4 separate regions of the Homo sapiens genome follow, and regions 1, 2 and 4 are each linked to region 3. Evidence: fine-mapped expression QTL. A gene starts in region 3. Each other region holds a variant in brackets. All regions are shown on one strand. Distances are between the middles of the regions. Region 1 has its middle 13 kb from the start of KRTCAP2. Region 2 overlaps HCN3 (hyperpolarization activated cyclic nucleotide gated potassium channel 3). Region 3 holds the start of GBA1 (glucosylceramidase beta 1). Region 4 overlaps MUC1 (mucin 1, cell surface associated).

Region 1 (2,684 bases), 81 kb before region 3:
ACCTGTAATCCCAGCACTTTGGGAGGCCGAGGCAGGTGGATCACGAGGTCAGGAGATTGATACCATCCTGGCTAACATGGTGAAACCCCGTCTCTACTAAAAATACAAAAAATTAGCGGGGCGTGGTGGCAGGCACCTGTAGTCCCATCTACTTGGGAGGCTGAGGCAGGAGAACGGTGTGAACCAAGTTGGTCCCTGAGTAGTGGCCCCACCCCTTAGAGGGGTGGGCAGCCCCCCTTGTATGCCTGTCAGGCAGTAGGGATTTCTGGATGTCCACAGGTGTCAAGGTAATTACTAGGTCCTTGGGGAAGGTTTCAGGTAGTCAGGTTGTGTTGACTTCATCCCTGCCCTCAGGGCACCCACAGTTCCATAGGGCAACAGGACAAAAGCACATGCAATTAACAAAAACACAGACAAACTTTTAAAAGGGGAGTAGTGGAGAAGGGGCTGGGTGAGTCAGGGTTTCCTAGAGAAGGTAAGCTACAAGAGACGAAGATGGGAAAATATGATAGCCTGAAGGTGGACAGACTCAGGAACAGGTCTGAGCAGCTGAGAAAAACATCTGGATCATTCTGAGGATTCAGCAATTTGGAGTTGATGCAGGGTAGAAGTTGAGTTTCAACAAAGGGCTCAAAGTACAAGAGTGGTGTGTTGCCAATGGGGTTCTTGGTTCTTCTTCTTTTTTTTTTTTTTTTGAGACAGAGTTTTGCTCTTGTTGCCCAGGCTGTAGTACAATGGCGCGATCTCGGCTCACCACAAACTCCACCTCCCAGGTTCAAGTGATTCTCCTGCCTCAGCCCCCCGAGTAGCTGGGATTATAGGCAAGTGCCAACACACCCAGCTAATTTTGTATTTTTAGTAGAGATGGGGTTTCTCCGTGTTGGTCAGTCTGGTCTTGATCTCCCAACCTCAGCTGATCTGCCCGCCTCAGCCTCCCAAAGTGCTGGGATTACAGACGTGAGCCACGGCACCTGGCCCTTGGTTCTTCTTTTAATAAACATTTGTTGAACACCTACTCTATGCCAAACAGCATTCTAGTGGACAAAATAGACAAATTCTCTGCCTTCAATGAACCTTATACTCTAGTGATGGGAGACAGACAAGACAAAAATAAACATTTAATATACCAACTAAACCTGCCCAGTGGCTCATACCTGTAATCCCAGCACTTTGGGAGCCCAAGGCAGGAGGATCACTTGAGGCCGGAGTTCAAGGTCAGCCTGGGCAACATAGACCTCATCTCTACTAAAAATAAAAATAACATATATTCACCAAGTAGTGAAAAGTACTATGAAGAAAAGTATAGCAAGGTAAGGGGCTAGAAGGTGACAGGCTGTACTGTGTCATATAGCACGATCAGAAAGGCCTGTCTGAGAAGGAGACATTTGCACAGAGACCTGAATGACATACAGAAGAGAGAAGTGTAGATATCTGCTGAGAAAGCGTTTCAGGCACAGGAACAGCAAGTGCAAAGGC[C/T]GCGAGGTGGAAACGTGCCTGGCACAGGGGACATGCAGGGTCTGGGGGCAGGATGGAGTGAGTGTGGGGAAGAGAGCAAGGAGGCGACATCAGAGAGGTGGCAGGAGCCAGATGGTGTGTTGTAACCATGCACTGTAGTCATGCTGGTTAAGCAACATGGTGGGCACAGATGGATCTGAATGTGAACTCCAATTCCGCCTTCATTTATCGGTTGTGTATAATCTTGAGCAGATTAGCCTTTCTTTCATTTAACCCCATTTCATTTTACTGAAACAGGGTGTATTAGTCAAGGGTTCTCCAGATGATCAGAACCAATAGGGTGTGTGTGTGTGTGTGTGTGTGTGTGTGTGTGATCCTGGTGCTGCCCCTCAGGAACTCTCTCTCTTTCCATGTGTATGTATATGGCAAGAGAAAGAGAGGGAGAGGCACAGTGGCTCACTCCTGTAATCTCAGCACTTTGGGAGGCCGAGGTGGGAGGATCACTTGAGCCCAGGAGTTTGAGACCAGCCTGGGTAACATAGCAAGACTCCGTCTCTACAAAAAAATAAAAAATAAAAAATTAGCTGGGCCTGGTGGTGCTTGCCTGTAGTCTCAGCTAGTCGGGAGGCTGAGATGAGAAGATCACTTGAGCTCAGAAGTGTGAGGCTGCATGACCTATAACAGTGCCACTGCATTCAAACCTAAGTGAGAGTGAGACCCCATCTCTGCCAAAAAAAAAAAAGGAATTGTTTCACACCATTATGGAGGCTGGTAAATCCAAGATCTGCAGGGTTGTGGGCAGACTGAAGACCCAGAGAAGAGTCAAGGTTCAGTTCAAGTCTCAATGCTACGTGCTTCTAAACTCCCTCTTGCTCAGGGAAGGTCAGTCGTTTGTTCTGTTTGAACCTTCAACTGACTGGATGAGACCCAATCACATCATGGATGGAGGGCAATCTGCTTTACCTAAACCCTACCAATTTAAATATTTAAATACTAATCTTTCACTCTCTCTCTCTCTTTTTTTTTTTTTTGAGACAGAGTCTTGCTCTGATGCCCAGGCTGGAGTGCAGTGACACAATCTCAGCTCGCTGCAACCTCCGCCTCCCCAGTTCAAGTGATTCTCCTGCCTCAGCCTCCCAAGTGGCTAGGATTACAGGCCTGCGACACCATGCCTGGCTAATTTTTTTTTTTTTTTTTTTGAGACGGAGTCTTGCTCTGTCACCCAGGCT
Region 2 (2,680 bases), 41 kb after region 3:
CCCAGGTTCAAGCAATTCTCCTGCCTTGGCCTCCTGAATATCTGGGATTGGGATTACAGGTGCGCGCCACCACACCTGGCTAATTTTTTTTTTTTTTTTTTGAGACGGAGTCTCGCTCTGTCGCCCAGGCTGGAGTGCAGTGGCACAATCTCGGCTCACTGCAAGCTCCGCCTCCCGGGTTCACGCCATTCTCCTTCCTCAGCCTCCTGAGTAGCTGGGACTACGGGCGCCCGCCACCATGCCCAGCTAATTTTTTGTATTTTTTTAGTAGAGATGGGGTTTCACCGTGTTAGCCAGGATGGTCTCAATCTCCTGACCTTGTGATCTGCCCACCTTGGCCTCCCAAAGTGCTGGGATTACAGGCGTGAGCCACCACGCCCAGCTATTTTTTTTTTTTTTTTTTTTTTTTTTTTTTTTTGAGACAGAGTTTCACTCTTGTTGCCCAGGCTGGAGTGCAATGGCGCAATCTCGGCTCATGGCAACCTCCACCTCCCAGGTTCAAGCGATTCTCCTGCCTCAGCCTCCTGAGTAGCTGGGATCACAGGCATGTGCCACCACTCCCAGCTAATTTTGTATTTTTAGTAGAGATGAGGTTTCTCCATGTTGGTCAGGCTGGTCTCGAACTCCCAGCCTCAGGCGATCCGCCCACCTTGGCCTCTCAAAGTGCTGGGATTACAGATATGAGCCACCGCACCCAGCGCCTGGCTAATTTTTAATTTTTTTTTTTTTTTTTTTGAGATGGAGTCTCGCTCTGTCACCCAGGCTGGAGTACAGTGGCGTGATCTCTGTTCACTGCAGCCTCCGCCTCCCGGGTTCAAGTGATTCTCCTGCCTCAGCCTCCCGAGTAGCTGGGACTACAGGTGTGCACCACCATGCCCAGCTAATTTTTATATTTTTCGTACAGACGGGGTTTCACCATGTTGGCCAGGATGGTCTCGAGCTCTTGACCTTGTGATCTGCCCATCTTGGCCTCCCAAAGTGCTGGGATTACAGGCGTGAGCCACCACACCTGGCCTTCTTCTTTTTTTCTTTGAGGCAGAGTCTCACTGTTGTCACCCAGGTTGGAGAGCAGTGGTGCGATCTCGGCTCACTGCAACCTCTGCCT[T/C]CCGGGTTCATGCCATTCTCCTGCCTCAGCCTCCTGAGTAGCTGGGGTTACAGGCTCTCGCCACCATGCCCAGCTAATTTTTGTATTTTTTGTAGAGACGAGGTTTTGCCATGTTGGCCAGATTGGTCTCAAACTCCTGACCTCAGGTGATCCGCCAGTCTCAGCCTCCCAAAGTGCTGGGATTACAGGCATGAGTCACCAGGCCTGGCCTAATTTTTAACTTTTGTAGAGATAGGATCTTACTATGTTGCCCAGGCTGGTCTTGAACTCCTGGACTCAAGTGATCCCACTTTGGCCTCCCAAAGCGCTGGGATTACAGGCGTGAGCCATAGCTTTTCTTTTGAGACAGGGTCTCGCTCTGTCAGTCAGGCTGGAGTACACCTCAGCCTCCTGAGTAGCTGGGACTTTAGGTGTGCACCACCTGGCCTGGCTAATTTTTTTTATTTGTTGTTGAGATGAGGTCTCACTATGTTGCCCAGGCTGTTTCTTGCTTCTTTTGCTCAGCATTGCATTTGTGAAATTCATCCATAGGGCTGAATGTAGCTGTAGTTGGGTAATTTCACAGCTGTATGGTATGCCAGCCCATAAATAGTGTATTTATCTACTTATCTGTCTACATTTTTCTACACAAGGACATGTGTGTTGTTCTCAAATTTAATGCTGCTATAAACATTCCTATGTGTATCTCCTGGAGCGCATATTTTCCTTGGATGTGTCTATACGTAGGAATGGGATTGCTGAGTTGCAGGGAATGCAAATGTTTAACTTCACTAGATAATGCTGAACTATTTTCCCAAATGGTGGTCCCAACTTATACTCCCAACAGCTGTAAACAGTCATTCTGTTATTGTGTATCTTTGCCCATTCTTGGCCATGTCAGCCTATCTTCTGTCAGTCTAGTGGCTGGTGAAATATCCTCATGGTCTTACTCCTCATCTCACTCCCACCTTAGGTTTTACTGGGACCTGATCATGCTGCTGCTGATGGTGGGGAACCTCATCGTCCTGCCTGTGGGCATCACCTTCTTCAAGGAGGAGAACTCCCCGCCTTGGATCGTCTTCAACGTATTGTCTGATACTTTCTTCCTACTGGATCTGGTGCTCAACTTCCGAACGGGCATCGTGGTGGAGGAGGGTGCTGAGATCCTGCTGGCACCGCGGGCCATCCGCACGCGCTACCTGCGCACCTGGTTCCTGGTTGACCTCATCTCTTCTATCCCTGTGGATTACATCTTCCTAGTGGTGGAGCTGGAGCCACGGTTGGACGCTGAGGTCTACAAAACGGCACGGGCCCTACGCATCGTTCGCTTCACCAAGATCCTAAGCCTGCTGAGGCTGCTCCGCCTCTCCCGCCTCATCCGCTACATACACCAGTGGGAGGAGGTGGGGTGGGGAGATGGCGGGCGGGGCAGTGGGTGGGGGATGTTGGGGGAGAAGGGGGCGGGGCGGCTGGTGGACTTCTCTAGGAAGATGCTATGGGTGGGGCTCCTGGTGACCTTATAGTGTGGGGAAGATGGGTGGGGCTTCCGTGCGTGAGCTCTCTCCAAAACTGGTGGGGGAGAAGCAGGAACAGAAT
Region 3 (2,651 bases):
AAAAATTTTAAAAAAAGAAAAGAAAAACGAAAAGTTTCAATGGCTCTATGTCATCTTGTCCCCTTCCTCCTCACCTTCTTCAGAGAAGTACGATTTAAGTAGCAAATTTTGGGCAGGGGGTGACAGGGCAAGGATGTTGAGAGCAGCAGCATCTGTCATGGCCCCTCCAAATCCCTTCACTTTCTGGAACTTCTGTTCTGGCTGCAGGGTCAGTAGCAGGCCTGAGGACATCCACAGGGAATAAGGGTATCAGTACCCAGCGGGAAACTCCATGGTGATCACTGACACCATTTACCTCTAGGAGGACCCAGCCTGGCCCAGGGGGTGAGGGGTGTAATGGTTACCTGTGCCCGTGTGATTAGCCTGGATGGGCCCCATACTCAGCTCCATCCGTCGCCCACTGCGTGTACTCTCATAGCGGCTGAAGGTACCAAGGGCAGGAAAGGTCGGGGGGTCAAAGGAGTCACAGTATGTGGCATTGCAGACACACACCACCGAGCTGTAGCCGAAGCTTTTAGGGATGCAGGGGCGGGCACCTGGGAGGGAGGGAGTACAAGCAGAGTGAGGTCTGATGAAGACATGGAGAATGGACACATCTGCTAGGAGAGACTGAACACGGTTTCAAAATTCCTCACCCCTTGGCCGGGCGCAGGGGCTCACACCTGTAATCCTAGCACTTTAGGAGGCCGAGGTGGGCGGATCACCTGAGGTGAGGAGTTTGAGACCTGCCTTGCCAGCATGGTGAAACCCCGTCTCTACTAAAAATACAAAAATTAGCTGGGCGTAGTGGTGGCCGCCTGTAATCCCAGCTACCTGGGAAGCTGAAGCAAGAGAATCGCTTGAATCTGGGAGGCAGAGGTTGGAATGAGCCAAAATTGCACCACTGCACTCCAGCCCAGGCAACAGAGTAAGACTCTGTTTCAAAAGAAAAAAAACAAAATCCTCACCCCAAAGTTGGTCTCAGTCACTCAAAAGGATTTATTGAGCACCTACTAAAAGTCTACCACCAGCTTACTGGAAGGCTACCAAAGGACTATGAGGCAGAAGGGAGGCTCTGTGCTACCTCCCCACTGCCTTGACTCACTCACCTGATGCCCACGACACTGCCTGAAGTAGAAGCAATCCTGTGAGGCTGCCAGCCATGATGCTTACCCTACTCAAAGGCTTGGGACATTCCTGAGGACAGAATGAGGAATGACTGAAAAGCAAGCCCCTCTCCACCCCTCAACTACTCTCCTGGGCAGGGCTTAGCTGCCTTTGGGTGCCCATGGCCCGGTCTCCCACATTCATTAGGACAAGGCCCACAGAAACCTGGGTGCAGCTCTCCCTGCAACCCTTCTGATGACAACTCTCTGCCCACCCCAAATCAGGATGCTCCCCACCACTCTTCCCACCCATTTCAACTTCGACCCCTCCCTCCATCTGTGCCTTGCTCAAAGAGCCATGATGGCCCTGGATTCAAAGAGAGTCTGTCATTCATTAAATTCCAGTGCCAGGATTCCAGAAGCACTGTGACAATGCTGATTGGGAGCTCTCTCTCTTACCTCTCTGGAAGGACTTGAAAACTCCATCCCCTCAGGGTCATTAGATGAAGAGAAGACCACAGGGGTTCCAGAGTCTCTGAAGGATAGAGGATCCACTAAACAAAAACAAGGATGCAGGTACCTGCCTTAGCTATAGGCACTAGGTTAGCCCTGCAAGTAATTCCGGCTTCCCGATGTGGATGGGTCATGTGATGACTAGGAGCGTCACATGACACAGGAAGTGAGGCAATCACAGCCATATTTCTAAAGGGCAATTGGCTTCCTCTCATCTGTTACAGATTATATGCCCTATAAAACTCTGGAGGGCATGTATGGGTGACAACTTTAGGAAGAGCCTAGAACACAGATTTGCATGGAGAATGGGGTAGAGGCTCCTAAATCCCAGAGGATGGGAACCACAGCAGGCACACTTCTTTTTTGATAGAAATGTCAAAAAGGTACAAATAAAGCTGATATAATTTAAAAAAAAAAACTTCACTGTGCAAAATACTGACACTACCAAGATGTTTAAGACAGTCTTTGCCCTATAGAGGTGTGTGAGGCATGGAAGTCAGACACACAGATATTTACAGATAAAGACAGAAACGGTAACAGGTGTGCATGGAGAGCTCTCTGAGATGAGGAGGGACCATTCGTGGGTGGGGAATTATCCAGGATGGCTTCACAGAGGAAAAAGTGAGGGGGGTTATTAGCCAGTGAAGTGCAGGGCACAAGAGGGTGGGACACTGGCAGTGGGATGACAGGACTGGAGGGAGGGAGTGGTCAGTGCGGCTCCTCTGCAGCGTCCCTTGTTTCATCATCAGATGCAGATGGTAATAACTGTTCTTCCTTCCTCACAAGACAGGGAGGTTTGTAAAGTCGTTCAAAAACCAAAGTGTTGTACAAAGCCATATCCTCAGTGGACACAAGGAGGAAGCTGTCCATGGTGTGGCCTCATGAACCACATCAAATGAGATTTAGCGGGAGTGGCACACACAGTCATGACCTGACTAATCCCAGCTCTCAGCCCATTTCCTTGCCTGGAAAATGGAGGCAATGCCACAACCTCAAAGGGTGGTTACTGCAGTCAGTGAGGTAAGTGCAGTGCCTGACCACTTGGTAGGCACC
Region 4 (2,684 bases), 53 kb before region 3:
CTCTGCTCTCCTTCACTCCCTCTTCTTGGCTCTAATCAGCCCCCTTGTCCCTCCATTCTCTGCTGTTCCAGCCTAAGGAGGTGTGTGTGTGTGTGTGTGTGTGTTTTGGGGGGCGGGGTGTATCTGTGTCTTTGTAAAGCCGAGAGAGGGAGGTCTCCAGGAGGAGGAAAATAGGAGCAAGAAAACTAAACTCTCTCCTCCCCCACCTGGAGTGGTTTTCCAGCCTCAGGTGGCTGCAGTAATTATTTACTAGGTCCCATAGAGAAAGACCAGGAGAGGAAGGAGGGAGCGTTCCTTGCTTCCTTGAAGCTCCCAAGAACCCCACTGGCACCCACGCTCACCTGGTCTGCTGACACTTCTTCTTCTACCTGGGAAACCTCCCCCTATGCCAGCCTTTCTCGGTCTACCCTCCATTCCTAGGAGATGATTAGGGGCACAGAGGCTCACCCCTGGGACTCCTCGGGAAGGGCTCCCCTGGGCATAGTGCTCCACCCATTTTGCCTCTGGGTGCAAAAAAGCAAAACAAAACAAAACTGCCACGGTGGCACCAGTTCAGCCAGCGCCAGCCAGCATGAATGTGGACGGCCAATGATCTTTTAGGAATTCTGGCAGTGGGGCCACTCCCTCTTGAGGGCCCCTTTCTTCCATAGTCTCCTCCCAGGCCTGTCCCCCAAAACTCCTCTGACCTCTGCCCCTCATCCTTGCCAGGCCCTCCCCTGCTCACTTCACGCCACTTCTCACCTCTTCCAAGCTCTTTGGGTTTTCCAAGTACCCCCTTCAGAATCCTTGCCCAGCCAAACCCTCTGCTTCCCCTGGCCTGTGGGGCCCAATCTCACCTTCTCATAGGGGCTACGATCGGTACTGCTAGGGGGCACATAGCGCCCATGGGTGTGGTAGGTGGGGTACTCGCTCATAGGATGGTAGGTATCCCGGGCTGGAAAGATGTCCAGCTGCCCGTAGTTCTTTCGGCGGCACTGACAGACAGCCTGGGGAGATAGGAGGTTATGGCAGGCCATGGAGTGCCTTCTACCGGGGGGCTCTGATCAGGGCCAGGGACTGCACTCACCAAGGCAATGAGATAGACAATGGCCAGCGCAACCAGAACACAGACCAGCACCAGCAGCGCGATGCCCCAGCCTGGCACCCCAGCCCCAGACTGGGCAGAGAAAGGAAATGGCACATCACTCACTAAAAGGAAAAGCAGTGGTCAGGGCAGTCTCCCAGAGGAGGCGCCCCTCCCGCTGCCAGCACTAAGGAAAGAGCGGGGACCCAGACACTGGAAGGAGAGGGGCCCCGGCATGGTGCTGGGCTGCAGCCAGGGAAGTAGCCTCACCGCTGACGTCTGAGATCGTCAGGTTATATCGAGAGGCTGCTTCCGTTTTATACTGATTGAACTGTGTCTCCA[C/T]GTCGTGGACATTGATGGTACCTTCTCGGAAGGCCAGAGTCAATTGTACCACCACAGATCCTGGCCTGGTCACAGGGAAATGGGCACTTCAGCCACGGGTCCCAGCTCTGGCTCAGCACTCTTCCCCCAACCTTAAGTGCACCAGTCCCTCCCTACGGTCATGACCACCACCCACCCTCCAACCACCACACTGGGTCCACACCCAGAACTGTACCTGAACTTAATATTGGAGAGGCCCAGAAAACCCCCTTGTTTATAAATCTGCAAAAACTGGGGTGAGAGGGAAAGGACTCAGGCTTGATGCAAAGGGTGTGGACAGTTCTGATGGCTGCTTCAGGGGAGCATGGGGAAGGAAAGGCCGATACTCACCATTTCAGAAATGTCTCTCTGCAGCTCTTGGTAGTAGTCGGTGCTGGGATCTTCCAGAGAGGAATTAAACTGGAGGTTTGAAATGTGAAAAGACAGGAAAAAGAAAGAGACCCCAGTAGACAACTGGGGAGAAGTGCTGTGATTGGAGGAGGTGAGAGGAGGTACCGTGCTATGGTGAGTGCTACTGGCATCAGTCTTGGTGCTATGGCTGGCAAGGGTGGTAGGAGTATCAGAGTGGTGGCTGGGAATTGAGAATGGAGTGCTCTTGCTGGCTGGGGTTGTGGTAGCCCTGGCAGAGGTGCCGTTGTGCACCAGAGTAGAAGCTGAGCCTGATGCAGAGCCTGAGGCCGAGGTGACATTGTGGACTGGAGGGGCGGTGGAGCCCAAGGCGGGCCTGTTGTCCGGGGCCGAGGTGACACCATGGGCTGGGGGGGCGGTGGAGCCCGGGGCCGGCCTGGTGTCCGGGGCCGAGGTGACACCGTGGGCTGGGGGGGCGGTGGAGCCCGGGGCCGGGGTGGAGCCCGGGGCCCGCCTGGTGTCCGGGGCCGAGGTGACACCGTGGGCTGGGGGTGCGGTGGAGCCCGGGGCCGGCCTGGTGTCCGGGGCCGAGGTGACACCGTGGGCTGGGGGGGCGGTGGAGCCCGGGGCCGGCCTGGTGTCCGGGGCCGAGGTGACACCGTGGGCTGGGGGGGCGGTGGAGCCCGGTGCCGGCCTGGTGTCCGGGGCCGAGGTGACACCGTGGACTGGGGGGGCGGTGGAGCCCGGGGCCGGCCTGGTGTCCGGGGCCGAGGTGACACCGTGGGCTGGGGGGGCGGTGGAGCCCGGGGGCCGGCCTGGTGTCCGGTGCCGAGGTGACACCGTGGGCTGGGGGGGCGGTGGAGCCCGGAGCCGGTCTGTTGTCCGGGGCCGA

Evidence for each region.
Region 1: its variant is fine-mapped to the expression of GBA1 in whole blood (TOPMed, PIP above 0.99).
Region 2: its variant is fine-mapped to the expression of GBA1 in blood mononuclear cells (TOPMed, PIP 0.97).
Region 4: its variant is fine-mapped to the expression of GBA1 in whole blood (TOPMed, PIP 0.99).

The regions. Positions count from the first base shown.
Region 1 is chr1:155,158,796-155,161,479 of GRCh38, forward strand. No RefSeq gene overlaps it. Among named protein-coding and RNA genes, the nearest start is that of KRTCAP2, 13 kb to the right of the region's middle. The variant C/T (reference allele first, on the strand shown) is at 1,477.
Region 2 is chr1:155,280,354-155,283,033 of GRCh38, forward strand. HCN3 (hyperpolarization activated cyclic nucleotide gated potassium channel 3) reads left to right here. Exons shown (of 8, transcript NM_020897.3): 2 at 2,058-2,487. Among named protein-coding and RNA genes, the nearest start is that of HCN3, 4.2 kb to the left of the region's middle. The variant T/C (reference allele first, on the strand shown) is at 1,106.
Region 3 is chr1:155,239,542-155,242,192 of GRCh38, forward strand. GBA1 (glucosylceramidase beta 1) reads right to left here and starts at 1,708. Exons shown (of 11, transcript NM_000157.4): 1 at 1,545-1,708; 2 at 1,089-1,176; 3 at 345-536; 4 at 75-221. The coding sequence starts at 1,571.
Region 4 is chr1:155,186,389-155,189,072 of GRCh38, forward strand. MUC1 (mucin 1, cell surface associated) reads right to left here. Exons shown (of 12, transcript NM_001371720.2): 7 at 1,775-2,546; 8 at 1,620-1,675; 9 at 1,334-1,470; 10 at 1,067-1,188; 11 at 837-986. Among named protein-coding and RNA genes, the nearest start is that of MUC1, 5.2 kb to the right of the region's middle. The variant C/T (reference allele first, on the strand shown) is at 1,406.